Homo sapiens: one gene and its partners. The protein of the gene in region 3 interacts with the protein of the main gene of each other region in a pairwise test. Each region holds a gene or a part of one and is shown on either strand. Other genes may lie near its edges.

Region 1 (7,606 bases), on a different chromosome or scaffold from region 3:
CCCGCCACCACATCCAGTTAATTTTTGTATTTTTAGTAGAGACTAAACTTGGAGTTTTGCCAAGTTGGCCACGCTGGTCTCACACTCCTGACCTCTGGTGATCTGCCCACTTTGGCCTTTTTTTTTTTTTTTTTTGTATTTTTAGTAGAGACTGGGTTTTGCAGTATTGGCCAGGCTGGTCTCAAACTCCAGACCTCAAATGATCTGCCCGCCTTGGCCTCCCAAAGTGCTGGGATTACAGGCGTGAGCCACCGCACCCAGCCAAATATTTAATATACTATAAAGCAAAATTAAATTGAAATTTTACCAAAAGGAAGGAAGTGGACAGAAATGGATTTGCACCATTCTGTCCAACCAGAGTCCTTGCTCCTAAGCACAGCATCATTTTCCTTCTCGTTAATTATCCCTTTTAACAGCAACGAAATGACCTGGCCGGCACACGAGAACACAGAGATGAGGCCACACCTTGTAATTTCTGGGGTTCTGAGGGGGACCCTGGTGGTGGTTCTGGGTGCTGCGGTTCTTTCAGTAAAGAACTTCCAGGAGTTTCTAATCAGCTGCTTTCATCAAGATTCTCATAACCTTCTCCTGCTGCCGCTTTCAAGTGGGTTTGTTCCCGAGCACATTATTAGGAAAGCGGCTATAATAACTGCTTACCTGCCTCCGGCTCCGCTCCACAAACACCCGCCAAGCCCACACTGTGCAAAACAGTAGTAACACGCCCGCCTGAGAATGGCTCCGCGGCTCCGCATTGCTGCCTAAGAGCTTTCCTGCATGTGATCTCATTTCATCCTCACCGCAACTCCGGGCCGGGGAACTCATGTCCCCGGTGAGGAAGTCCAGGCTTGAGATCGGCCTCAACAGTCGGAGGTGGCAAAGCCAGGGCTTGCTCGAAGCCCCACCTTCTCACTGTTGGGGAGCAGGCTGACTCCAAGCTGTGGAATCCTGTGCAGGGGTTATTTTGGTATCTGTGGGGTAATTTCACACTGAGGCTAAGTCACCGTTTTGGGTTCAGATGGACATGAAATTGAATCTCAGGGATCCAACTTTCTAGCAATGTACTCTGGAGCAAATTTGGTATTTTCCTCATCTGTAAAATAGGAACAATAAAAGTACCTTTTTTTTTTTTTTTTTTTGAGTTGGAGTCTTGCTCTGTTAACCCAAGCTTCAGTGCAGTGGCGCCATCTTGGCTCACTGCAACTTCTGCCTCCCAGGTTCAAGTGATTCTCCTGCCTCAGCCTCCCAAGTAGCTGGGATTACAGGCACCTGCCACCGTGCTTGGCTGATGTTTGTATTTTTAGTAGAGACAAAGTTTTGCCACGATGGCCAGGCTGGTCTCAAACTCCTGGCCTCAAGTGGTCTGCCCGCTTCAGCCTCCCAAAGTGCTGGGATTACAGGCATGAGCCACTGTGCCTGGCCAAAAATACCTTCTGGAGAGTGTTGCTGGAGTTACAGATGATATGTTATTGTGATATGGTATCAGCAACAGTCATCTCAGAAGGTGCAGCATCTTGGAAAATTTTCTTGTGTGCGCTTCATCTACTGTCTCAGATAGAGTCACTATACATTCAAAAGTACAGATCTTCCTCCACTAGCTAACAAAGTCACCTCCTTATCCTCAAGTCTATGTTCCCAGTTCAGGATGGGCCTGGGTGATGCCTCATTCCCCATGGCTCCAGGGCCTCTGATGCTGCCACTTTGTCAGTGGCTGGCTCAGCTCAGGCAAGGCCCCTCTCCCAGCTAACCATAGCATAAGCCTGAATCGATCCCTGTCTCAGGGCCATTTGGAGGATTAACTAATCCATCATGGGGGAAACCTTTGAAATGTGCCAATGTGGCTGAGGCTATTGTCAGGCAGAGCAGAAACTGAGTTTACTGGTTCCCCCGTTTCCGAGACTTTCAAGCTGGACTCACTCTCATGTGGGTGAAATCCCAGCAGGTGCAGGTTGCACTGAGCTCACCAAGCCGTCTATCTGCCCCACCTGACGCTGGATCTTTTTGACCTATCTCTGTTTCTTTAAGGGACAGTAAGGGTGAGAAGATAAAGGGATCAGGATTCCAGACACTGAAGAGCTTTTGTTTGTGTTTTTAATAGAACTGAACACATTAAATTTCCCCTTTTGGCATCATCAGTCTATGGACTGAAAACATAGTTCTGAGATTATACCTTTCCGATTTTATGTTTTGCAAATCTCGAAGGTCCCTGGAAATCTACAGGGTACATCTTTTTTCACCCTCTGAGATGTGAGCTCCATAATAATAAAACCTAACTCAGCAATTCATTGAGTTCATCACTATTTATTGAGTACCTACTCTGATCGCTGGTATACTAGAAGCACAGAAGCCTTCTTCTTGAAGGGAAAAAGAAACTCATGTATCTAGAAACACCAGGCTCTATGTGGCACTTTCATTTATTTGCCACATAAAGCCTGGTATTTCTAGATCTATGTGGCATCATTTCATTTAATTCTCACAACTCTAAGAAGTACATATTGTTCCATTTCGCAGGTGAGGAGATTCTGAAAGTTCCATAACCTGGCCAAGGTCGTTTGCATTTGCAGAGGCCAGCACTGAAGTCCAGTCCCGTCTGACTAGACCATCTGGGTCCTTCCCACTAGAATACAGTGGGGAGGAGAAAAGGACACTGATGGATTAGTCAGTCGACAGCACAGGCAGCAGATTATAAAGCTGAACTGTTTGGTTAGAGCAGCTCGGGGCTGGAGAGGGAGGGCTGGCAGGAGGACTTCCTGAAGGAGACAGCCCAGAAGCTCCTTGTAAGGACCTGAGGCTTGGGTATGGGTGGAGGAGGAAGTGTGATGTTGGCCCTGGGAGGGGAATGAATAAGAAGAGACAGTGGCAGACAGCATGCCCTGAGGTCAGCTGGGTGGAGGATGGGAAGCCCAGCAGAGATGTCTGGACCTGACGAGGTGGCAGCAGGGAGGCACTCACTGAGTTTATAACTCCAGGAGGGGCAGAAGCAATGGCAACACCCGTCACCAGGGGAGAGGATGACTCAAAGCCTTGGCTGGAAGGAGTGGTGGGTGTGGCTTGGAGCCTGCCCGGGCCAGGCAGGTGCTTTGGGAAGGGTCCAGCCAAGGAGAGTCCGGTCTTCCTCCACGCAGGGGAGGGGGAGCAGGGGAAGGAAGGAGAGACATTAACAAGATGGAATCTGTAGGCTTTGGTGCAGGACGCTTACGGGGAACACGGCTCAGGGAGTTGGATTCCAGATTGCTTTTGAAGCCTTCCCCAGGTCACATCACACCGCTGTTCCCAGCCGTTCCAGGTCTTCCTGTTGACTGTAGGATCAAGTCCATTCCCCCAATCTGACCTCAGTCTACGTTTTTGGGCTCTTTGCCCACTAGTCTCCTAAATAAGTCCTCTGCGCCCCACAAACCAGTCTCCACCCAGCCTCCAGTGCTGCCAGCCTCCTCCACCCCCACCTGGAGCAGTGACATTCATGGATAGCTCCTCCAGCGGTCTCGAAAAATGAACATTTTAGGGTTCCACTTTTTGCTGTTGGTGTCCCCCTAATGCGAACATCCTGTCCTTGAGGGCTGATTCTTTTTACAATAGTTGTCCCAACGGGGGAAGTCATTTCACCTTTCTGACTTAGTTTCCTTATCTGCAAAATGGAGCCAGTAGTGTCTCATAGGGTACAGTGCCTGCACACACGCCCATCCACGGCTGTTCCAGGCCTTTCCTCCACTGCGGGGGGGTGCCAGGGGTCCAGAGGCGAGGAGGAGGGGGCCGCTGGACGCTGGGAAATTGGGAGGACCCCAAGATCCCTGTAGGGATCCACGGTAGAGGGGGAGGGCTTCTCTGTCCTCTCTATCCATTCGGACCTCCGCATTTCTAAGAACCAGCATCGCACCATGTCACTGAGAAAGAGCGCGCACACCAGCCGCCTTTTGAAAGTCACAAATAGATTCCTTCAGTGAATTCAGGACAGACTCCCCGGGGGCAGGTCCCGGGGCGGGAGCCGGTGTGGGTAGTGCTGCGCGGCCCTTAACTGTTTACCAGGCGCGTTTCGCTGACCTCGTCTCCTGGACCCCCTTTCGTGACCCCTCTCAACACCTCTACTGGGGAGACGAGGACCCCGAGGTTCTGGGGGGCGACGCGACCTGCCCGAAGTGACAAGGGTCCTGGGCCGCACTGCTCCGCCGGGGTCTGCGCTCCTCGGCGGAGCGGGTGGGAAGGATGAGTCCTCGGGGTGGAGAAGGAGGAGCGGGTCCCCGGGTACCGCTCACCCGGCCTTAGGAGCCCGGGAGCGCGCGTAGGGACGCGGAGTTGAGGCTCTCCATCTGCGGCCAGGGAAAGGGATACAGTCCCCCGGGCCCCTCCCGGCCGCTCGGAACCCACCCCAGGCGCGTCCCCGCGGGCGCGCGCTCCAGGCGGGGCCGACGGGCTCGGAGGCGCGCGCCCGCTGCCGGGTCCGCCGCGCGCGCTCCCTCCGCTCCTCTCCCCCGCCCCTCCCGGGCCCGCGCGCTCCCAGGGTCCGCCGCGCGCGCGCCTCGCGTCGCTCCCCATCCCCGCCCCTCCCGCCGCCACCCCGCCCCCGGCCGGGTACCCTCGCCGGACCCGAGAGAGAGCGCCGCCGCCATCTTAGTTGCTGCCGCTGCCTTCAGCAAGACGCTGCTCTGAGGCGGGGAGGGCGCCGCGTCCTGAGCGCGCGGCCCAGCGTCACGGCGGCGGCGGCGGCGGCTCCTCCTTGGACCCCCGGAGCTCCCCGCGCCGCGGAGCAGCTAGCCCCAGGCCCCTAGAGCCCCGAGAGCTCCGAGAGCTCCGCTCGGCGTCCCGCGCGCCTCCCTGCCGCTCCCGCCCCGGGCTGGCGATGCTGCGCCGCCCCGCTCCCGCGCTGGCCCCGGCCGCCCGGCTGCTGCTGGCCGGGCTGCTGTGCGGCGGCGGGGTCTGGGCCGCGCGAGGTAAGCCCCGGGGCTGGGCCGGGCCGCTGGGTCGGTGCGGGATTCGGGTCCGGGTGCAGGATTCGGGTCCCGGTGCGGGGATTCGGGTCCGGGTGCGGGAGTAGGGCCGGATGCCGGGATTCGAGCCGGGATGCGGGGAGTCGGGTCCGAGCGCAGGGAGCCGGGTCAGGGCGTGGGGTTCGGGTTGGGGGTCGGGCTCGCGGAGCCGGGGCCAGGGCGCAGGAGACTGTGGGCGCGCGCTGCAGGCGTCCCGGGGAAGCCAGGCTCCGTCCCGGGCGGGGCTCCTGAGCCTGGGCTGCCCCCACTGCAGCCCATGGTGGTGGCTGCGCTGATTTGGGGGAACGTGCAGACGGGCCGAAGGGTCAGTCCGCCCTGCTCAGCGGCGCACGCAGGCTGGGGCTGCACCCCTGGGTGAGATGCTCTGTGTACGTGTGCTCAGATGTGCATCAGGCGGGGGGTGCACGCACAGTTTTGGTGTGTGCTTACATAAGAGCCCACTCCTCCGCATCCCGTTTCCAAGATCCCGATTCTGTGTTGCTGCACCGCGGACACCACGACTTCGCCCCTTTCCGCCTCCTCCCAGAGTCCTTCAGACGTTGTCTGTTTCCAGTGGAGCCGAGGCTGAAACTTAGTGCTTCCCTCCCACCTTTTCACCCAAAGGTGAAATCGCGATGAGATTTGCGACCGCGGGCTCACCCAGTGTTAGAAATCTCCGTCTCTGCTACCCCTGGTGCCTTGGTGCTGTTTTTCTGACGGTCATTTAGACCGTGGAGGGTTAGATGTTCTCTACAAAAACGAGAAACCTCTCTGGTTTTTTAGGATTGTAGGACCGAAATTATTTTATGGCTCGGTGGGAAGTAGTATTTCTTGGCTAATTTATTATTAGCTTTTAACCTTCATCCACTTAACCTTTTAAACCTTGCATGCCTCTGCTATTGACTGGTCTTGCCAACGAAAAGCTTACGCATTGCAGATACAGTATTTGCTTCTGAGTGGATCTTGAAATCGTAAACATTTTCCTTGGCCTTAGAGCAGAGTAATCTAGGTGTAGTCTGTAGAATCTACTGTAGGCTTAAATCTGTTGTTCTGATTTTTTTTTAATCAAAAGAAATTTTGGGGAGGAGGATTGATAGAAATCTAGATGAAATGGTCATATTTGAATTTAGCAAGCTTTTTAAAAATTCTTATTTTCCCTTCCCTGGCGTGACATAAGGAGAGAAGTATGGTGTTCACGAATTAAAGGGCAGAGGCGGCAAATGCATCTTTTGTTCCATGTTCCTTTCTAAACATCGAGGATGATAAACTTTGAATACTTCTTTTATTTCATTTCTAACATTCTGTTGACTCTGTCAAATTCAGATCTTAGTCACTAAGTATCTCATTGCTGGCCATTTGATTTTTAAAAGTAACATCAAGCTAAGTTTGAAATGTTCTTTCCAGATGTGGGTTGGAGGTCTGAAACTCTAATATATCCAAGAGAAATGTCAAAAGTTTTGCTTCTCTTGGGGAAAACCCACACATTTTAAAAATATGTGCTTGGATTGGGTATTTTGGGAACAGTTTAAGTATATTTAGTCAGTGATACCATTTCTTGTTAAAATTGGTGCTTTCTTAAATAGCACCTACATTTGTTAGTCATTATTTAATTGCCTTGGTTACTTAAACAGCATACATTTCAACTTTGAATATCTTCATTACCTGAGACCGACAGAAATCTTGTGTGAAAGGTGTGTTGGCTAGTTGAGTCATTTGTAATTTGCTTTCTCTAAGTTTTTCTTGGTGCAGTTACAGTAGTTCAAGATTCTTAGTCTTCGGAATAAAGACATTTTACACATCAGTTATTCGTATGCATTTTTTTCAGGTTGCAAGTTAGAAAATGTCTTGGAATTACACGAAATGCTAATAAACAATTTCATTTTGAAATATTACAAGTGAATTTCATATGTAAATTTACAGTTTGGAGACACTCTGTGGGCTCGTTTTAAGAGATCATTTCAACTAATTGAATTTTTTACGGCTGTAAGGCAGTACGACATGAACTCCTGTTCATGCTGTAGCTACCTTTAATCATTGTTAATGTTAGATTACGTACAGACTGCTGCAGAAAATGATAGATTTTCTAATATAAATTGCATCTTGACTCTTAGTTTTGTAGAGACCCTCAAATTTTATTTTAATTATAGCTGTAGTTCTCAAAAAACATTGAGTAGAGCTGGGTGCAGTGGCTTGCGCCTGTAATCCCAGCACTTTGGGAGGCCGAGGCCAGCGGATCACCTGAGGTCAGGAGTTCGAGACCAGCCTGGCCAACATGGTGAAACCCCATCTCTGCTAACTATATAAAAATTAGCTGGGTGTACTGGTGGACGCCTGTAACTCCAGCTACTTGGGAGGCTGAGGCAGGAGAATTGCTTGAACCCAGGAGGCGGAGGTTGCAGTGAGCCGAGATTGCGCCACTGCACTCCAGCCTGGGTGACAAAGCAAGACTCCATCTTAAAAACAAATTCAGTAAGCCAAAATATTAGAAGAAATATCTTTGGCATGCCCTGGACGGTCATGTCCTTCAGCTACCTGCCTTCTTCATGGAGATCGGGAAATAGAACAGTGAAGCAGAGAAAATAGAAAGCTTATATGAATATTTAAAAAATGCAACCATGTAATGCATTTCGAAGCCACTTAATACATAA
Region 2 (7,725 bases), on a different chromosome or scaffold from region 3:
GGTATGCTCCAGAGAAGTAAGGCAAATGGCCCAGATGACGACCACCTGGGGTAGACCCAGGGTCTCCAGGGAATGGCTCGGGGGCAGACGCTGTGTCTGTGTGTGCAGGATCTGCCCCCACCAGCAGGAAAGGGGCAGGAGGGAGGCAAAGAGGAGGTGCCCAGGACTTGTACCCTGGCTGCCAAGCAGGGTGGGGTGTTTTCATGAGGATTGCTTTTAACCAAAAGTCCTCAGCCTTCTGCAGACCCAGGGCAGAGGCGAGTTGCTCTACATCATGTGCTTTAAGTAGAGCCCTTTGCCAGCCAGGAGGCCCAGCCACCCCCTTCCCTGCCCTGTGGCTTTGGGGGGAGACACAGAGTCACCTCAAGGCCCCAGCCCACTCAGCGCACGGTGCACACATCCAGGATGCAGAAGCGTGCGCGGCAGGTGGGGCAGGGCACGCGGCTGGCCAGCCAGGTGTCAGGGCGCAGGGGGTCCTGGCGGCTGGCGAACCACTTGCCCATGCAGGTGAGGCACCACATGGGGCGGCAGTAACACTGCTGGCACTCGCCTGTGGCTGCCTCCTGGCAGGTCTTCACCAGCTTCACGCTGGCACGTGTCTGCATGCAGCCTATGCAGGCCTCCAGCTCCTGCGGGCAGGTGGAGCGTCACCAGGAGCCCAGGCAGACACCCGTGGGCACCCACCCATCCACCCGGCCCTGGCCCAGGCCCCCCACCTGGCTGCTGGGCACTGAGTAGGCCGGGTTGACCTCTACCAGGGAGGCAAATGTCTCCAGGAACAGGTCGCCCAGGCTCTGGTGGATGACCACATGGGCTGCCCTGCGGATGGGTGCCCGGAGCTTCTCGCAGAGCTCCCCGTACTCAGTGGAGTTCAGCCTGCAGGGAGGAGAGCTGCTGGGCCCCTCTGCAGGGCAAAGGGAGCGGAAGATGGAGGCTACACCCCAAGGAGTGACAGGGCAGCTGTCGCACCAGGACCAACCAGGAGAGATGGCCCTAAGGCCAGAGCCCACGGACCCAGTGCCAGACAGCCCAGCCTGGGCACGGGACGGACCTAGGAGCAAGGCAGCTGTCCAGCCTGAGGGCTGCACTGTCCTGAGTGCTCCCCAAGAATCTGGGGGAGGTGGCTCCAGGGAGTGGAAGGGGAGGCCAAGAGTGCAGGGGGACCCGAGGGAGGGCTATGCGGGAGGGCTCAGTGACTGGTGTCTTGTGGACACCTTGCCTGGTGTCACACAAGCCCAGGAGTGTTGGAGTCCACACCAGCTACACCCAGCACCTCCCAGGGGTCGTGGCACCAGAGCCTGGCTCTGGCCTGCCATGTGCCCTCCGCAGCCCCACAGGCACCACACTCTTACCAGATGTCAAAGGCCTGCACAGCAGGGTTGGTGCTGGCCACACGGATGGTGAGGAGCTGCACGGGCAAGTTCGAGTCTGGCGAGAGCTCATGCTGCCGAGACTCCGTCACAGTCAGGTGCACGTCCTGCTGCTGGGCCACGTGCACTCGGTAGGTGGTTACCTTCATCACCCACGTGTCTGTCACAATCACACGGGCACCTGGTGCACCGGTGGCAAACTTGTCAATCCGCCGGAACTCAGTGTTGACAGAGGAGGCAACAGCCTGCCAGCCAGACTGTGGGAGGGCGTAGAGGGCCAGGGTGCGCGCCAGTGGGTGGCAGGCCCACCGGTCACGGGACCAGTAGTAGATCAGGATGCAGGCGATGGAGGGGAGGGTCACGGCCAGCAGCAGGAAGAGCCGCCAGGCCTCAGGGGCCTGGCTGAGGGCGTGGAGCCGCTTTTCTGAAGCCGCAAGGCACATGCCCACATAGTAGCCTGCAAAGGACAGGGTGAGCCTCAGGGGAAAGTGAGTGGCAGGCCGCTGTCCACCCCCCGACAGCCCTGGACCTGGCCCTCTGCCCGGGTTCCAGGGTCAGCTCCCAGGGTAATTGGGCTTTACCCACTCTGCACTTCCCCAGCCGGCCACTCTCTCCCTGCCTGTGGCAAAGGCAGGATATATTAGCGGAAAAGGTTTTTAATTTGCTGCTTTAGTTTCACACAATACGTAAGTGTTGAAAAAACTACAAAAGCCTAGAAAGGGAAAAATAAACACAATCAGGTGTCACCTCAGGCAGAGCTGACCCCTGGCCTGCCAGGGCAGCTGCCTGGACAGGATCTCAGTCTCTCAATCTCACCCGCTCTGAGGAGGCTGATCAAATGTGGTGCATCCCAGAGCTGAAAAGTTATGTGCGAGAAAGGAAGCAAGTCTCAAAGAATGATGGGACATGTCCAGAGGACACGGAGCCAGCTTCAGGGCCCTGCTGGCCAGATCGAGGACAATTTGAAGGTCCAAATAAGCCATGGAGATGGTGAGGAGTTGCACCAGCAGGTTCCAGTTGGCAAAAAGTAATAGTCCACATTTGGAGTTGGCCCAGTCACTGCATTTCAAGGTAACATGACATATAACAATAGGTAACTAGGGGCCGGGTGCAGTGGCTCACACCTGTAATCCCAGCACTTTGGGAAGCCGAGGCGGACGGATCACGAGGTCAGATCGAGACCATCCTGGCTAACACGGTGAAACCCCATCTCCACTAAAAAATACAAAAAATTAGCCGGGCGTGGTGGCGGGCGCCTGTAGTCCCAGCTACTCAGGAGGCCGAAGTTGCAGTGAGCCGAGATCATGCCACTGCACTCCAGCCTGGGTGACAGAGCGAGGCTCCGTCTCAAAAAGTAAAAATAAAAATAAAACAGGTAACTAATACCTAATAAAGCTTGAAAACTTTCAAACTAAGTTAAAAATAAAAAGAGCTTGACATCCGACTGTGAGGCCAGCTGTGCTGTCTGCTCCAGGTGTGGCTGCCACAATTCACTTGTGGTCCCTCATAGGCCTCTGGGGAGGGTGCAGCTGGAAGGGCTACAGAAACCCACCCAGTAGCCCTAGAAAGTGGCCTGGTCAGGGCCCCAGCCCCACTCAGCCCCATCCATCTCTCAAGTGGGCCCCCAGCCCACCCTCTCCATGAGGCAGGCCTGGGCGCCTCCACCCGACACCTGCCTCCAGTTCTTCTGGGCCCAGGCAGCTGCATCCTCAAACCAGGATGTGGAGGGTCACCCCTCTTGTATCCCCAGAGTGGCAAACCTGGCCAGCCACTGGCCATCTGTCCTCCCAGGGCTGCGTCTGCCCCCGTGTCCTCCAGAGGTACCCCCTTGAAATCCCCCTCCAGCCACTGCACACCCCACCTCCCACCTGTCCGTCATCCAATCAGCTGAGAGAGGGACCTTCCAGAGCCCCAGCTAGCACCTGGGGCCCAGCCCAGCACCCCCCTGGACAACTCTGAGCGTCCCACCTGCACTGCACAGAGGCCCTCCCCAGCCTCTGCCCCTGTGGCGCCCCCAAACTGGAACTGCCTCCAAATCCGCCTGTTCTCTCCACACCCACCTTCCAAGGCCTAGTGCAGTGCCACCCTCCACACAGCCCCTCCGACCCCTTCCGTTGGACTCAATCAACAGTTGCCTTCTCCTGGCCACTGCCCCCAACCACGACAAGCAAGGGCTGCTTGGCCTTGCAACCCCCAGGCACGTGACGGTTCAGGACTTGGTGGGCCGGAGCATCCCTTGCCCAAGGTTCTGAACTTGGGTTCCCGTCACCTGCAAGTCAGTGCCGGCGGCGCCCCTAAGCGCGCTCAGCCCACGCCGCGGTCCCTCTGGATGAGGACCGGCGCCTCTCCCCAGCTGCGCCCAGGCGCTTTCGGGGCCTCGGGGAGCTGGCGGAGGCCTCCTCCTGACCTCCCAGCAAGCCCTGCGCAGGAGAGGATGCGGCCGGCCGGCCCGAGCAGCCTCACCGAGCGGCAGCAGCGAGTGGCACAACAGCGTGGCGGCCGTGCGGCGCAAGTGGAAGGGCACGAAGGCGGCGTCCTCGCTGCCCAGCCAGCCCGACAGCAGGTTCTGCACCGTGAGCCCCGCCGCGTGGAACTCGTTGGGCGTGAACACGAAGCACACGGCGAACACCAGATAGGCGAGAGTGAAGGTCACCTCGGGGCTGTCCATCGCGCAGCCGCCGGGAAGCTGTCGAGCTAGGCCCCCGCCCCGGCGCGCGGACGAGGCCGCAGCGCCCAGTCCCGGACCTGTCGGTTGCGGCGGCCGCCGCCCGGCCGCCCGCGGGGCACTCTAGGACATGGAGTCCCGCCGCCCGGCCGCCCGCGGGGCACTCTAGGACATGGAGTCCCGCCGCCCGGCCGCCCGCGGGGCACTCTAGGACATGGAGTCCCGCCGCCCGGCCGCCCGCGGGGCACTCTAGGGCATGGAGTCCCGCCGCTCGGCCGCTCGCGGGGCGCTCTGGGAGATGCAGTCCCCGTGCGGGTGCGGCCTCTCTTCTCGGCCGGCCCTGGAGGCGGCACCGCACCTGTGCATTGAGCACAGGTGGGGAAACTTAGGCCTGAGCGAGGCCCTGGCCATGAAGCCCCGCCCAGTAGCGTCAGTTGCGGAACTCGAAATTCATGGGGCGACTGCGAGCCCGGGGTCTCAGCTTCAGACACCCTGGCGTGCCCTCCACTCCGGAAACGGAACCGTCGGCGCCCGAGCGGGGGGTGGGGGGGGAGGGAGGGCGGAGCCGGCGAGGCACAGCTTCCCATTGGACGCCCGCCCTCCTGCGGTCCTGCCCCCGGCCGCGCGCTGATTGGCCGCGCGAAGGCAACCGTCGGCGTTTGAAACTCCGGCGCGCCGGCGGCCATCAAGGGCTAGAAGCGCGACGGCGGTAGCAGCTAGGCTTGGCCCCCGGCGTGGAGCAGACGCGGACCCCTCCTTCCTGGCGGCGGCGGCGCGGGCTCAGAGCCCGGCAACGGGCGGGCGGGCAGGTAGGAGAGCGGCTACACGGCGCGGGGAGGCTGGGGTCCTGGGGGCGCGAGGCCGTCCCGCCCCGCCCCGCCCTCGGCCCTCGCCCTCCCGCCCCGGCCGCCGCTTTCCCCGGGAAGCGTCCCCCACGGCTCCTCCTGGGGCCGCCGCCAGAACCTGTACCGCGCCCTGTCATGGGACCCGGCCCTAGACCGACCGCCGGGCTGGGCCCCCTGGATGGTGGCCAGGGGCGGCTAGAGCTGGGCCAAGACCGACGGCGGAGCGGGCGCCCCGAGGTGCTTTGCTCTCCTCGACCCTCTCCTGTCTCTCGGTCGCCCACCTTGGCTCTTTGTTGGCTCCCAGCACGCGGACCCTCCTGTTGTTCTTTGGTCCCTTCCGGCCTCCGTCCTGGGGCCAACTCCATCTAGGCCGCCTGCGGCGGACACCTGGGCCCCTACCGCTTCCCCGCACCTGCTGCGCCGCTCCACCTTCCCCCCGCACCGCATCCCTCTTGTGCACCAGAGTAGCACCAAAGCACCAGCCTGGGGCCGGTCCCTTCTCTGCCCAGAGCCCCTCCCGGGCCTCCATAGTCAGTAAAGGCCCCTCCTGACTAAGGCTGGGTCTGCTGCTCTCCCGAGCTCCTCCAGGCCGCCAGAAGGCTTCCTCCGAGTCACTTTCTCCCTGAGTTCGAGGCTTGCGGGTCCCCCAGCGATCCAGCACCCCTTCCCCTGCCCTGTACCCAGTTATTCAGGGCGAAAACCTAAGCGTCGTCCGTAAGTCCCATATGTGCCAGTGGCCAGGCCCGGGTCTGGTCTGGCATCTACTCCTTGGGCTCCAGAAGCCTGTGGTTTCCCTGCTTCCCTTCTGCTCTTAACCTCCCCACCCACACACAGCACCACAGTGGGCTTCTCAAGCTGCAGCACCGACCTGCCGGGGCTGCCCCCTCTCTCTTCTCCAGGACCCTCCCCAACTTTGCTCTTCTTCAAATCAAAGCCTCCCCAGGTCCCCCTCCACCACCAGGTGCCTGTGGGGTTCCTGCCCTGGTCGACACTCGGTTCTCTCTGGCAGCCTTTTTCCCTACGTCATTCCCTAGACTGGGAACGCTGTAGACAGAAAGGGTGGCAAGTGTGTGGGTGACCGGCGTGAGGACCTGGGCAGCCCTGGAACCTGGGACTGACTGGAGGCTCTGATGTGGAAGTTCCTTGGCACCTGTTGCTCAGCTCTGGGCTTCCCTTGTTTGCGCATCGTCTCCCAGCTCCTCCTCTGGGCCTTCACCCTCTCAGCCTGGTCTTGTCCCGCTGCCTAGCCCGGTGGGAGAGAGCAGACCAGAGCCGCTGTCCTGCTTTTCTGCCCTCTACTGCCCGGTCCTGCCTCACGTCACACGCAGAGGCCTGTGGGGAGACCAGGGCTTCCTCTGGCTCATCCGGGTTTCTTATTGGCCCGGGCTTTTCCGTCTCTTGACTTCTGCTTGATATAGTAATACAGCAGTAGAGATTATGCAGGCTTGGGTTTTCTTTCTCACCATCTCAGCCTGAAGGCCCTTTAGCTCTTGGTCCCAGGAAGCAGCAGTGCTGCCCATGGCTCCCCCTGCCAGGCTGGAGAGTGAGTCTCTGAAGCAAGATGGGGACTCAGTCTGAGGCTTTCTCTGCCAAGAGACACGTGTGGGAGGTGTGAGTTCCAGAGCAATGAGCACACCTGTGTGGGAAGTGGTCGTGCCCCTTGCAGCAGCTGTCACGTCTGTGTCTGGACAATGTGGTAGTGTTGCCCTCACACTGACACAAACATGTTCTGCTTTTCCAGAATGAGTCTGCAGGTCTTAAACGACAAAAATGTCAGCAATGAAAAAAATACAGAAAATTGCGACTTCCTGTTTTCGCCACCAGAAGTTACCGGAAGATCGTCTGTTCTTCGTGTGTCACAGAAAGAAAATGTGCCACCCAAGAACCTGGCCAAAGCTATGAAGGTAAGTGTGACCTGTACAGTGTGTGGCTGGCCAGGTTGCCCTAGGGCCTGCTTTCTTGGTGACCTCTGAGCTGCAGGACACTGCTGGTGTGGCTGTAACAGCTTGAACTAATGAATAGGTGCTCTCCTCCTCACTCCGCAACAGGTGACTTTTCAGACACCTCTGCGGGATCCACAGACGCACAGGATTCTAAGTCCTAGCATGGCCAGCAAACTTGAGGCTCCTTTCACTCAGGATGACACCCTTGGACTGGAAAACTCACACCCGGTCTGGACACAGAAAGAGAAGTAAGTGTTGGTGCTGCTGGACATGCTGGAGCTTCACCCTCTCTGTCCGATGGTTCTTGCAGGAAAGTGCTGTCTTGTTCTATCAGGCCTTGGCTGGATTTTTTGTTTGTTTGTTTGAGATGGAGTCTCGCTCTGTTGCCCACGCTGGAGTGCAGTGGCGCGATGTCCGCTCACTGCAAGCTCCGCCCCCCAGGTTCATGCCATTCTCCTGCCTCAGCCTTCCAAGTAGCTGGGACTACAGGCGCCTGCCACCACGCCCGGCTAATTTTTTTGTATTTTTAGTAAAGAAGGGGTTTCACCGTGTTAGCCAGGATGGTCTTGATCTCCTCCTGACCTCATGATGCGCCCGCCTTGGCCTCACAAAGTGCTGGGATTACAGGTGTGAGCCACCACGCCCGGCCGGCCTTGGCTGGATTTCTCCTGAAATCTGCACTGAGTGTATGCAGCATATGGCCAGTTCACTAACAGAAAAGTCGATCATCAGATACTTGGATAACTTCATACTTCACTTTTTTTTTTTTTTTTTTTTTTTTTTCTGGAGACAGAGTCTGGCTCTGTCACCCAGGCTGGAGTGCAGTGGCTCGATTTCGGCTCACTGCAAACTCCACCTCCCAGGTTCATGCCATTCTCCTGCCTCAGCCTCCCGAGTAGCTG
Region 3 (7,026 bases):
TAAGCATACTCAAGAGACACAAAGAACAAGCAAGGACCAAAGCTGTTAGGACCTATTTTCATCTTCCTACAGCTCCACTGTCCAATATGGTAGCTACTAGCTACATGTGGCTACTTCAATGTAAATTTATTAAAATTAAAGAAAATTTAAAATTCAGTTTCTCAGTCACACTTGAATTGTGAAGCCACACTTCAAGTACTTAACAGTTACATGTGGTTAGTGGCTACCATACGAGACAGCACAGATACAGAATATTTCCACCAAAGAAATCACTAATGAATGGTGCTATAAAGGTTCAAATACTAAGTGCATTCTTTGTTCTGAAAGCCACCTAAATTGGACTAGAGAGATAAATGATTTGGCACTAATTGGCTGTGTCATCTGGGTCATGTCCCTTCCTATTTCTGGGTGTCAGTTATCCCATCTGAAAAATAAGGACTCATGTTTTCACTAGTTCAACAGTTCCCAAGAGGGAATAATACTGCTGACGTTGTGGTTACATAGGAGAATGTCATTATTTCTAGGAGGTGTACATTGAAATATTTAGACACAAAGTATATGATGTCTTTATCTTAAAGTAGGTCAGCCAAAACAATTTGTGTGTGTGTATGTCTAAAACATATCATTTATATAAAGATAATCCATTAATTACTGAATCTGGGGGTGCACATGTTTATTTTCCTCCTTTCAATTGTTCTGTAAAGTTGAGAAAAGATGAATCTTAAAGTCAGCTGATTAAAAAAAGAAAAAGAAAAAACAAAGAAAAGGCCACAATGTGGATTATATCCTCACACTCTGCATACTTCTCCAATCCACCATGTACAGACACAAGTCTCCCCTGATCATGAACCAACAGGTGACACTCCACGTACACATCTCTTTATCAAAGGCCAGGCTGTGTGGCTAGATGGCCACGCACATTAAATGTTTAGAAAGCAATGTGGCTGATGGGGATGGGTAGTGACTTTGAAGCAAGGCAGACTTCAGCTGAAATTGTGACTCTTACCATTCCTTAGCTGAGTATTCCAAATACTTATTCTACCTCTCCTCCACTTTTCTTACCTGTAAAATTGTAAAACTTACCTTACAGAGATATTAAGGTAGGAAAAACAAATTGTACATTTTTTCCTAACATACCTCATTTTCCTCGTGTTACTTTAAATTCATTTAGCCTTCAAATAAAAAATGGAGGCCGGGCGCGGTGGCTCACGCCTGTAATCCCAGCATTTTAGGAGGCCAAGGTGTGTGGATCACAAGGTCAGGAGATCGAGACCAACCTGGCTAACACGGTGAAACCCTGTCTCTACTAAAAATACAAAAAAAAAATGAGCGGGACGTAGTGGCGGGCGCCTGTAGACCCAGCTACTCAGGAGGCTGAGGGCAGGAGAATGGTGTGAACCCGGGAGGCAGAGCTTGCAATGAGCCGAGATCGCACCACTGCACTCCACCCTGGGTAACAGAGTGAGACTTCATCTCAAAAAAAAAAAAAGAAAAAAGAAAAAAGAAAAATGGACTGTTAAAGTCCACGGACATAGGAAACTTGAATCCTTCAAGTTTATAAAGCACTCTATAAACACCACCTGAGGCTACTCTTGAGGTCAGGAGCAGCATCACTATGCTCTTCCTGTGAGAGGATCTTGGGGATCTCCGGCTACCCTACTCCTCACACAATGGCCTGTGATTAGGCATCTCTGTGCAGGTAGCCTTGTAACCTTCAGGCTGAGAAGATATCTTCCCAAAGACCAGACAATGACACTGGTTAATGTGAGCTAAAAAGGAATAAAAGTAGAGTCCAGCTCAACTACTCCACTGAAAACAGACACCAAAACACAGAAGGGATTCCTTACCAAGGGCTTCCAAGCGTTCCATTTGTTCTTCTCTCCATTTACGGATACTTTCAGGCTCTGACTGCAATCGATCCACTTGTGAAATAGCTGCATAACTGTCTGTTGGACCATTACTTTCCTTAACACAAAACACAATTGTGCTATATTAATACCAAAAATTCCTTCCTAAAATGCACTTCACCTGAGTTAGAACCCCTGGTTCTGTTTTTTTTTTTTTTTTTTGAGACAGAGTTTTCACTCTTGTCGCCAAGGCTGGAGTGCAGTGGCACGATCTCGGCTCACTGCAACCTCCACCTCCCGGGTTCAAGCAATTCTCCTGCCTCAGCCTCCCGAGTAGCTGAGATTACAGGTGCCTGCGCCTGGCCTATGTGGTTGCTTTTTTTTTTTTTTTTTTCTGGGGTGGGGGAAGGGGGGACGGGACAGGGTCTTACTCTGTCACCCAGACTGGAGTGCAGTGGCGCAATCTTGGCCAACTGCAACCTCTACTCCCCGGGTTCAAGCAAATTCTCCTCTTGCCTCAGCCTCCCCAGTAGCTGGGATTACAGGCACATGCCACTACCGCCTGGTTAATTTTTGTATTTTTAGCAGAGACGGGTTTCACTGTGTTGGCCAGGCTGGTCTCGAACTCTTGACCTCAAATGATCCACCCACCCCAGCCTCCCAAAGTGCTGGAATTACAGGCGTGAGCCACCGTGCCCGGCCTGTGTTGTTGCTTTTAAGGTAATCCTTTAACATTTTACAAAAGCCGCCATTGTTGTTAGAAACGGGTTCTGCAGTGAGCCAAGGTTGCGGTGGCTCTGGCGGGGTGCGGTGGCTCACGCCTGTAATCCCAGCACTTTGGGAGGCCAAGGCGGGATGGTCACTTGAGCCCAGGAGTTCAAGACCTGCCTGGCCAACATGGCGAAACCCCATCTCTACTAAAAATACAAAAAATTAGCCGGGCGTGGTGGCATGCGCCTGTAATTCCAGCTACTCAGGAGGCTGAAGTGGATGAATCGCTTGAACCCAGAAGGTGGAGGTTGCAATGAGACAAGATCGTGCCACTGCACTCTAGCCTGGGCGACAGTGAGACTGTCTCAAAAAAAAAAAAAAAAAAAAAGACTCAAATAAATGTTAATCTTTACAAAATTATTCCATATGCCACTCACTGAACTAAGGAATATTAATATTACCAGGTTAACCTAATCAGACTATAAACAAAGATGGAAGGAGAATTATTTAAAGTATTAGTATTAACTTACTGCACTCAACACAGTATCATTTGAATGGTGATTTCTTTAGAATAAAGGTGATAACACTAGGGGCAGGTAAATAACATTTTTAAACAGTTCTCTTTTTATCAATGCTACCTCTCTTTAAATCTTTCCACTTTGGTAGATAACACACCAGCCAGTAATACATTCAGGAAAGTCAAAGGACTGGGGTTTCTTTCTAGGTCAGTCAATTAAAATCACAGGAAAGGAAGATTCTCAATCACTATCAATGAACAGAATCAGAGTACTCTGTACCTGGTAGTATTCACCATTCATTACTCCATCAACAGCATCTGCAAGACATAAGATTTTGGTCTATCAATAAGGACTGGTCAAACACTGGGCCAAAGGGTTGTACAGTAGAATACAGCATCATATGCTGTATGAACCTTGAGCTACTAAATGCTATCCCTGTGGTAGGTGCTATATACAACAAATAAAACCAAGATGTGCTTATATACAAATTTCACCAAAATGTGTACACATCTGTCCTTAAGCTCCCAAGTCCAAAAGCTTTTGATTTTATTTTCTGTTTTCTATTTTACAGTGGTAACAAATGGAAGACTAGCAGAAAGAGAACAGTGTTTCTCTATGAAAATTCTGCATGAGGGAAAAAAAAAAGTGTGGCCTGGAATCACCCATAGTGAGCAGAGACCTGCAGCTTCATCTTTGAGACAGTCTTGCTCTGTCGCCCAGGCTGGAGCAAAGTGGCCCAATCATGGCTTACTGTAGCCTCGACCTTTTGGGCTCAAGCGAACCTCCCACCTCAGTCCCCACAGGAGCTGGGATTGCAGGCATGCGCCACCACGCCTGGATAATTTTTCTATTTTTTTGTAGGAAGGGGGTTTCGCCATGCTGCCCAGGCTGCTATCGATTTCCTGGACTCAAGCGATCCACCCGCCTCGGTCTCCCAAAGTATTGGATTACAGGCATGAGCCACCATGCCTGGCCTCTCATATTTTTCTTAATTTTCCTAGTTGACTTTTACTCCTATATGTCAGTACAAAAATGAGTTTCTTATAGTTTGTCAGTGGCCTTTTACCACTTTAAGGCATGTGCCACCTACCTATGTAGTTTTTTAAGCACTCTATAAAGTTTTGGAAATATGAAGTTTATCAAACTAGTGAAAGCATGGGGGAAGCATATTCAATTTCGCCTCTGTAATAAATTTCTTGGTGTAGAATTGCTGGGTTACAGCTGGGCGCGGTGGCTCACACCTATAATCCCAGCACTTTGAGAGGCCAAGGTGGGAGGATCACTCGAGGTCAGGAGTTCAAGACCTGCCTGGCCAACATGGTGAAACCCACCTCCATATACTAAAAATACAAAAATTAGCCAGGGTGGTGGCATGAGCCTGTAATCCCAGCTACTCAGGAGGCTGAAAGAGGAGAATTGCTTGAACTCGGGAGGCAGAGGTTGCAGTGAGCCAAGATCGCGCCACTGCACTCCAGCCTGGGTGACGGAGCGAGACTCCATCTCAAAAAATAAAAAAAAAAAAAAAGAAAAAAGAAAGAAAAAAAAGGAATTGCTGGATCACAGGATATGTATTTTATTTTTTTTTGAGAGAGAGTCTTGCTCTGTTGCCCAGGCTAGAGTACAGTGGTGCAATCTTGGCTCACTGCAACCTCCACCTCCTGGGTTGTTCAAGTGATTCTCTTGCCTCAGCCTCCTGAGTAGCTGGGACTACAGGCGTGAGCTATCATGCCCACCTAATTTTTTTTGTAGTTTTAGTAGAGACGGGGGTTTCACCACGTTGGCCAGGATGGTCTCGAACTCCTGACCTCAGACGATCCACCCACCTCAGCCTCCCAAAGTGCTGGGATTACAGGCATGAGCCACTGCGCCCAGCCAGGATATGTATTTTTTTATTTTTTTTGAGACGGAGTCTCACGCTGTTGGCCAGGCTAGAGTACACTGGCGCGATCTCGGCTTGCTGCAACCTCCGCCTCCCAGGTTCAAGTGATTCTCCTGCCTCAGCCTCCCGAATAGCTGGGATTACAGGCACGTGCCACCATGCCCGGCTAATTTTTGTATTTTTTAGTAGAGACGAGGTTTCACTATGTTGGTCAGGCTGGTCTCAAACTCCTGACCTCAGGTGATCCGCCCACTTCAGCCTCCGAAAGTGCTGGGATTTCAGGCGTGAGCCACCGCACCTGGCCCAGGATATGTATTTCAAAGACTTCTAAAATTCTACCCACTTGTTCCTATTAGTCTACCAGTTTATATTACTACTAGCAGCACAAGTGCCCCATTTCTTAGACCTTCCCTGATACTAGGGACTGTGCTTGATCATGTTTTAAAATTTTTGCTAATTTGATAATGGAAAAAAAAAACAAACTCATGGTGGCTTTGTTGTGCCAATCTTATTTCCAGTGAGGTAATCACATACCCGACACCTGATTTTCTTCTTTACTGAATTTTCTGAGTTTGCCTATTTTCCTGCTATTTTTTGATCTCTAAGTATTTGCTCTCTAATAGTCAAATATTTTCCCTAGTTTCTCTTTTGATTTGGTTTATGGTATTTAACACTTGGAACAACTTAATTTGTGTATGTAGACATGATCGACTTTTTCTTCATGATTTCTGTATCTGCTTTTATGCTGAAGGCCTTTCCTATTATGAGATAGACAAATACTCACTTTTCTTCTTTTACTTTTTAAATGTCTCTCTTTAATCCACCTGGAATTTATTTTTGTGTAAGACAGAAGAGTGAGATAGTTTTAAATCCTAGATCCTACAGTGGCTAGTCTGGCCAGGCCTACATTATGGTTAATATAGTACAATTGACATACCAACTATCCACTAATATAGTCCAGCCCTGGGCTGGAATATGAGAGACTTTGATCACTACTCCATATACAAAACAAGAAGCAATCCTCATCCCACATCTCCTTAAAAATCACATGCTGTCTGAAGGCTCCTCCAGACCCACTGGCATCTGCTTTCCTCTTTATTAGTTACTGTATTACTGCACTAACATTCTTACAAGAATCAACTGGCTCAAGCCAAGGGATCGTCTGTTGCTGTGGAAACATGCAGAAAGGACATGTAGGGCCTTGACTTACTACAACAACTAAACTAAGCAACACGATGCTTCAGAAGGAAACTTTCTAGGGCCTTTCAGGAACTCCAGACAGAAAAAGGGCCAGTTTTCAAAAGTGAAAGACTGTCCCAAACCCACTTTCAACTTTCCACATTCCAGAAACATTTGAAGTCAAGCAGACCTACGTTTGAAGCTGCACTTGAGCCATTTATTACCTTGCTACCTTAGTGACACTGCTCAACTTCCACACCGATCCATTCTCATCTGAAATATGACACTACCACTTAACCTGTGGAGCTACTGCTGGGATCTGAAAGTGTACCTGGTATACAGCAAATGTGCAGTACAATTAACTATCATGCATGAGATTTCCCTAAACTTCCCTCCACCACTGCTACCAATAAAATTACTTCTCCAGAAAGCTTCCCTTTAATTCACCCATGTCTCTTTCTTCTCCTACAAGAAATAACTTGTCACCGGGTGCGGTGGTTCACACCTGTAATTCCAGCACTTTGGGAGGCCAAGGCGGGTGGCTCACCTGAGGTCAGGAGTTTCAGACCAGTCTGGCCAACATGGTGAAACCCCGTCTCTACTAAAAATACAAAAAGTTAGCTGGGCACGGTGGTGGGCGCCTGTAATCCCAGCTACTCGGGAGGCTGAGGCAGGATAACTGCTTGAACCCAGGAGGCGGAGGTTGCAGTGAACCGAGATCGCACCACTGCACTCCAGCCTGGGTGACAGAGCGACTGTCTCAAAAACAACAAAACACCATAATAGTGCCTTACTGCTGTACTCTCTCTGTGGCTTGTCTCTCCTGTTCTCTTCCCCGACTCAGCCCTCATGATTGAGAGCTTTTCAACAGCTCCACTTGTGCTGCCTCCTT
Region 4 (5,344 bases), on a different chromosome or scaffold from region 3:
CCAGAGTGTTGGGATTACAGGCGTGAGCCACTGTGCCCGGCCAAAGATTTTGAACTACAAAAGAGAAACCTGACATGCCAGTGTCACAATTCTGTATTTCCATGAATAGCATGGAGGACATGAAATAACATTATGTTAGTCTATTCTTGCATTGCTATAAAGACCTGAGACTGGGTAATTTATAAGGAAGAGAGATTTGATTGGCCTACAGTTCTGCAGGCTGTACAGGAAGCATGGTGCTGGCATCTGCTTCTGGTGAGGCCTTAGGAAGCTTACAATTATGGTGGAAGGTGACAGAGAGCCAGCATATGACTTGTTGGGAGTGGGAGCAAGAGAGTGCCAAGGGAGAGGTCCCAGACTCTCTTAAGTAACCAGATTTCATGTGAACTGAGTGGGAGCTCACTTACACCAAGAGGATGATGCTAAACCATTCATGAGAGACCCTCCCCGATGATCCAGTCACCTTCCACCAGGCTTCACCTCCCACACTGGGAACCACATTTTAACATGAGATTTGGAGGGGACAGACGTTCAAACCGTATCAAACATGAAACTGCATTTCGCATCCTACCATAAAGCCTTGTTTTGGGGTGAGGAAGTGGCTGTAAGTGAAGAATGACTGCCTCGTTTCTGGTTTGGACAACTGCATTGGAATGTCTGTGGGACATGGAATTGGTCATACAGGTGTAGAACCTAAGACAGGTGGCCTCGGCTGGAGAAATAAATCAGGAGGTGGTCGTGGAAGCCATGGGATTAGATGAGTTTACTCGTGTTGAATACAGCCTGAAAAAGGAGCATAAAACAAAACCGAGGGGCACCCATGAGGAATGGGCTGAAGAGGGAAGATACTGAGGAGGATGGACACCAGGAGAGAAACAAGAAACAAATAATGACATGATTGTTTTGTGAAAAGGGGAGTGGCCAACACTGTCAAACACAAGAGAATTGGAAATAACTAATGAGCTACTGTGGGAAGAAAGCCACAAATGAAATCGTTTTCCAAGTTACTTTCTCTCTCTATGCCTTAGATTCTTGGTAAAAAGAGCACCTGCCTCATGGGGTGGTTGTGTGGGCAAAATCACCTGACTGATTTAATGAATGCAAACCACTTAGAACAGTGCCTGGCATACAGCACGCCCTCAGTAAAGGCTCGCTCTTACTCTTATTGCAGTTGACTGGGCAGGTGATGTCATTAGGTTAAAGGTGTTCTGTTATATTTAGGAAGGACAGTAGAAAAAAGGCCTGAAAATAAGCCTGCTGATACGAAGATTAAAATCTGCCTATAAAAACGGGATAGTAGGGATTTTCTATTTATTTTATGATTTGAAATCATTCAGGACTTTCTTTTGATGCTCATAATTCTTTAACCATTTCAGAACTGATTGATGCATTTATAATGCTACAACAGAATCTTATTGGCTGGCTGTATTCGTGTATAGGGTGACCATAACAAAGTACCACAGACTGTGTGGTTTAAACAGCAGGAATTTATCGTCACAGTCCTGGAGCTGGAAGTCTCAGATGAACGTGTGGGGAGGATTGGTTTCTTCTGAGGCCTCCCTTTTTGGCTTGTAGGTGGCCATCTTGTCCCTGTGCCTTCATATGGTCTTTCTTCTGTGCATGTCTGTGTCCCAATTTCTTCTTATGAAGACACTAGTCATGTTGGATTTGGTTTCACCCGTATGACCTCATTTTCCTTAATCACCTCTAAAGGCCCTGTCTTCCAATACAGTCAGAGTTGAGGTATTGGGGCTAGGACTTCAACATATGAATTTTTGGGGAACACAATTCAGCTTGTAAAAGTCACTTATGAGAAGAGTTTAATGTTAGCCTCTGAGTGAGTCAGAATTTAATGTTAATTATGAGTCTAAATTTAATGTAAATTCTGAGTGAGTCAGAATTAGTGGGTAAAAATTTGAGACCTCACTTTTTAATGGGCACACAAGGAAGATGGTGCATTAGTAGGTATCTCCTCAGGTCAGGCTGGATGTCATTTTAACTCCTAACAATTTATAGCAGCAGCCAGGCAAGCAAAAGTCAATCTGGAAATACACTGCCTGCCTAAACAGAAACACTTAGGTCAATACTATAGCTTTCAAAAGGGAAGGTAACACCGTGTGCCCTGGGTGTGGTTAATCTGTAAGAAATTTTAAAACCACAAGCTTTTTCCTCTACAGTATACCCTTCTACCAACATAATTTGATGTATACTTGGGGATGCCAATTTTTTCTTAAAACATTAACTAAAAGAAAGCCTAAGTAAGGAAACAACTTTGTTGGCTTTTGTGCCCTCCAAACCTGAATGTATTGCTTCTGAACTGCTCAGAATGTGGTTTCTGTTGTAATGAAGGGGTACTGGCTTACACATTCACTGCACACATTAAGCACTGGGAAGGAAACAGTAGGCAAAGAGGTGGGTTTTTCCTCCTTGTCTTGTAGGCATGTCGGGGAAACCAGCACGATGTGCCAGTCATTCCTTTGGATGTAGTAGATAATCAGACAGAGAAGTTGGACACCAACATAACTGAGGTGGATGCAGCCTCCGTTTACACGCTGCCTGCTGGAGCTGACTTCCTCATGTGTTACTCTGTTGCAGAAGGTGTGTGGTGTTTAAAACAAACATATAATTGCCTCTCTTGGCTAAGGTCCTGTAAGTTTCACCTTTGATTGGTTTGGGTCAGATCTTTCGGTTGGGACATGGTGATTCCATCCTGAAGCTCACAGACTTAGAATTTCTTTGACCACATGGCACAGAGTGATAAATGAAAGTGTAAAGTACCTTACAGAAAAATAATTCCTGAGAGTTATGTTGAGTAAAGCAACAGTCTAATTAATTATATTAGTATTAGCAGCCTACCATCAGTTACTGAGGGTGGTAGTGCCATTGTGGTAATTGTCATGGAAAGCTTTAATTTTTTTTTTTTTTGAGACAAGGTCTCAACTCTGTCACTGAGGCTGAAGTGCAATGGCATGATCATGGCTCACTGCAGCCTCAATTTCTCAGGCTCAAGCAATCCTCCCACCTCAGCCCCCCTGTAGCTGGGACTATAGGCATGCACCACCATGCTTGGCTAACTTTTTAATTTTTCGGTAGAGATTGGGTCTTGCTATGTTGCCCAGGCTGGTCTCAAACAATCCTCCAGCCTTGGCCTCCCAAAGTGCTGGGAGTACAGGTATGAGCCATTGCGTGCGTGCGTGCGTTTTTTTTTTTTATAGTCTCACTCTGTTGCCCAGACGTGTGTGTGTGTGTGTATTTTTTTTTTTTTTTAATAGTCTCACTCTGTTGCCCAGGCGGGAGTGCAGTGGTCCAATGTCAGCTCACTGCAACCTCTGCCTCCTGGGTTCAAGTGATTCTCCTACCTCAGCCTCCCGAGTAGCTGGGAATACAGGTGCCTGCCACCACGCCAAGCTAATTTTTGTAGTTTTAGTAGAGATGGGGTTTCACCATGTTGGCCAGGCTGGTCTCGAACTCCTGACCTCAAGTGATCTGCCTGCCTCAGCCTCCCAAAGTGCTGGGATTATAGGCATGAGCCACCATGCCCAACTGAAAAATATTTTGATAATGGTTCTTTGCTTTTGTAGTAAATAATTTTGACTTCTTTTTAGTAATCTCATGTCTCAATCATTGTCTATCTTGGGAATTTTTTAGGAAATGGAAGAAATTATACAGAATTAACCCCGTGTATATAAAACTATATAGAATTAATCTCTTTTCCCATTTGAAAAGAGTCAAAAAAATTTAAAAGCCATTTATATCATGGACACATCTTAAGACTCTTCTAAGGATTTTTAAGAACTTATACTTCTGTAACTAAAAAGAATACACACAGTAATTGAAAGCCAGAAAACTGCAGCAACATTTTCCTTCTCACTTTTTTAGGATATTATTCTCACCGGGAAACTGTGAACGGCTCATGGTACATTCAAGATTTGTGTGAGATGTTGGGAAAATATGGCTCCTCCTTAGAGTTCACAGAACTCCTCACACTGGTGAACAGGAAAGTTTCTCAGCGCCGAGTGGACTTTTGCAAAGACCCAAGTGCAATTGGAAAGAAGCAGGTTCCCTGTTTTGCCTCAATGCTAACTAAAAAGCTGCATTTCTTTCCAAAATCTAATTAATTAATAGAGGCTATCTAATTTTACACTCTGTATTGAAAATGGCTTTCTCAGCCAGGCGTGGTTACTCACACCTGTAATCCCAGCACTTTGGGAGTCCAAGGTGGGCGGATCACCTGAGGTCGGGAGTTCGAGACCAGCCTGACCAACATGGAGAAGCCCCGTCTCTACTAAAAATGCAAAAAAAAATTTAGCTAGGCATGGCGGCGCATGCCTGCAATCCCAGCTACTTGGAAGGCTGAGGCAGGAGAATCACTTGAACCCAGGAGGTGGAGGCTGCGGTGAGCCGAGATTGCGCCATTGCACTCCAGCCTGGGCAACGAGTGAAACTCCGTCTCAAAAAAAAGAAAATGTCTTTCTCTTCCTTTTATATAAATATCGTTAGGGTGAAGCATTATGGTCTAATGATTCAAATGTTTTAAAGTTTAATGCCTAGCAGAGAACTGCCTTAAAAAAAAAAAAAAAAAGTTCATGTTGGCCATGGTGAAAGGGTTTGATATGGAGAAACAAAATCCTCAGGAAATTAGATAAATAAAAATTTATAAGCATTTGTATTATTTTTTAATAAACTGCAGGGTTACACAAAAATCTAGCTGATTTAACTTGTATTTTGTCACTTTTTTATAAAAGTTTATTGTTTGATGTTTTTAAAGGTTTTTGAAATCCAGGAATTAAATCATCCCTTAATAAAATATTCGAAATTCATATTTTATTACATTTTTCTAACTCACATTCTTGTTCATTTGTGTAATTGATAGATGTTTTTTACTCGGTCATTTAAATGTTTAATATTTCATCTACATATGAATTACCACATTTTGTGTATGACTTTAATTCCTACTTTAAAAAAAATCAGCATTCCAGAATTGTTGTATGGCATTCTGAGGATGAAATAGAAAACATAATTCTTAGCCACTATAGGTTGAACACCTGCAAAATCTGATTCTGTCAGCATCTTCCATGTTAAGTTCCTACAAACAGTCCAACAGTCATCAGACCCATTCACACACAATCACATTAATAGAATAACAGATGTTACTTTCAAGGTTCAATTCTTATTAATATGATATAGAATCTGAATAATACTGTTTTGTTAATAATCTGCCAGAGGCTGAAGAAAGTTAACTGTTTTGGCTTCGATACCTGAAACTTGTGATTTGCAGGTTCAAAAGCAATCGTTTATATACACTGTTTCAGTTGAAGTTCAAAAAGTACCAACTATACTTTAT

The links.
Region 1: the proteins of CLTA (region 3) and CLSTN1 interact in binary tests that used the Homo sapiens proteins (3 or more experiments, as listed by UniProt).
Region 2: the proteins of CLTA (region 3) and TACC3 interact in binary tests that used the Homo sapiens proteins (3 or more experiments, as listed by UniProt).
Region 4: the proteins of CLTA (region 3) and CASP6 interact in binary tests that used the Homo sapiens proteins (3 or more experiments, as listed by UniProt).

Annotation. Positions count from the first base shown.
Region 1 is NC_000001.11:9,820,959-9,828,564, reverse strand, and holds the start of CLSTN1 (calsyntenin-1 isoform 1 precursor), read left to right. Parts: upstream 1-4,599; 5' UTR 4,600-4,831; coding exon 4,832-4,922; intron 4,923-7,606. UniProt on the Homo sapiens protein: Postsynaptic adhesion molecule that binds to presynaptic neurexins to mediate both excitatory and inhibitory synapse formation.
Region 2 is NC_000004.12:1,716,800-1,724,524, forward strand, and holds the start of TACC3 (transforming acidic coiled-coil-containing protein 3), read left to right. Parts: upstream 1-4,721; 5' UTR 4,722-4,844; exon of another isoform or gene 4,845-5,117; intron 5,118-6,621; 5' UTR 6,622-6,622; coding exon 6,623-6,784; intron 6,785-6,902; exon of another isoform or gene 6,903-6,928; coding exon 6,929-7,071; intron 7,072-7,725. Other genes in the region: TMEM129 (E3 ubiquitin-protein ligase TM129), read right to left, coding at 381-629, 717-876, 1,353-1,827, 3,834-4,038. UniProt on the Homo sapiens protein: Plays a role in the microtubule-dependent coupling of the nucleus and the centrosome. Involved in the processes that regulate centrosome-mediated interkinetic nuclear migration (INM) of neural progenitors.
Region 3 is NC_000009.12:36,193,918-36,200,943, reverse strand, and holds part of CLTA (clathrin light chain A), read right to left. Parts: intron 3,394-7,026; coding exon 3,356-3,393; intron 1,966-3,355; coding exon 1,848-1,965; intron 1-1,847. UniProt on the Homo sapiens protein: Clathrin is the major protein of the polyhedral coat of coated pits and vesicles.
Region 4 is NC_000004.12:109,688,104-109,693,447, reverse strand, and holds the end of CASP6 (caspase-6 isoform alpha precursor), read left to right. Parts: intron 1-2,438; coding exon 2,439-2,598; intron 2,599-3,879; coding exon 3,880-4,118; 3' UTR 4,119-4,820; downstream 4,821-5,344.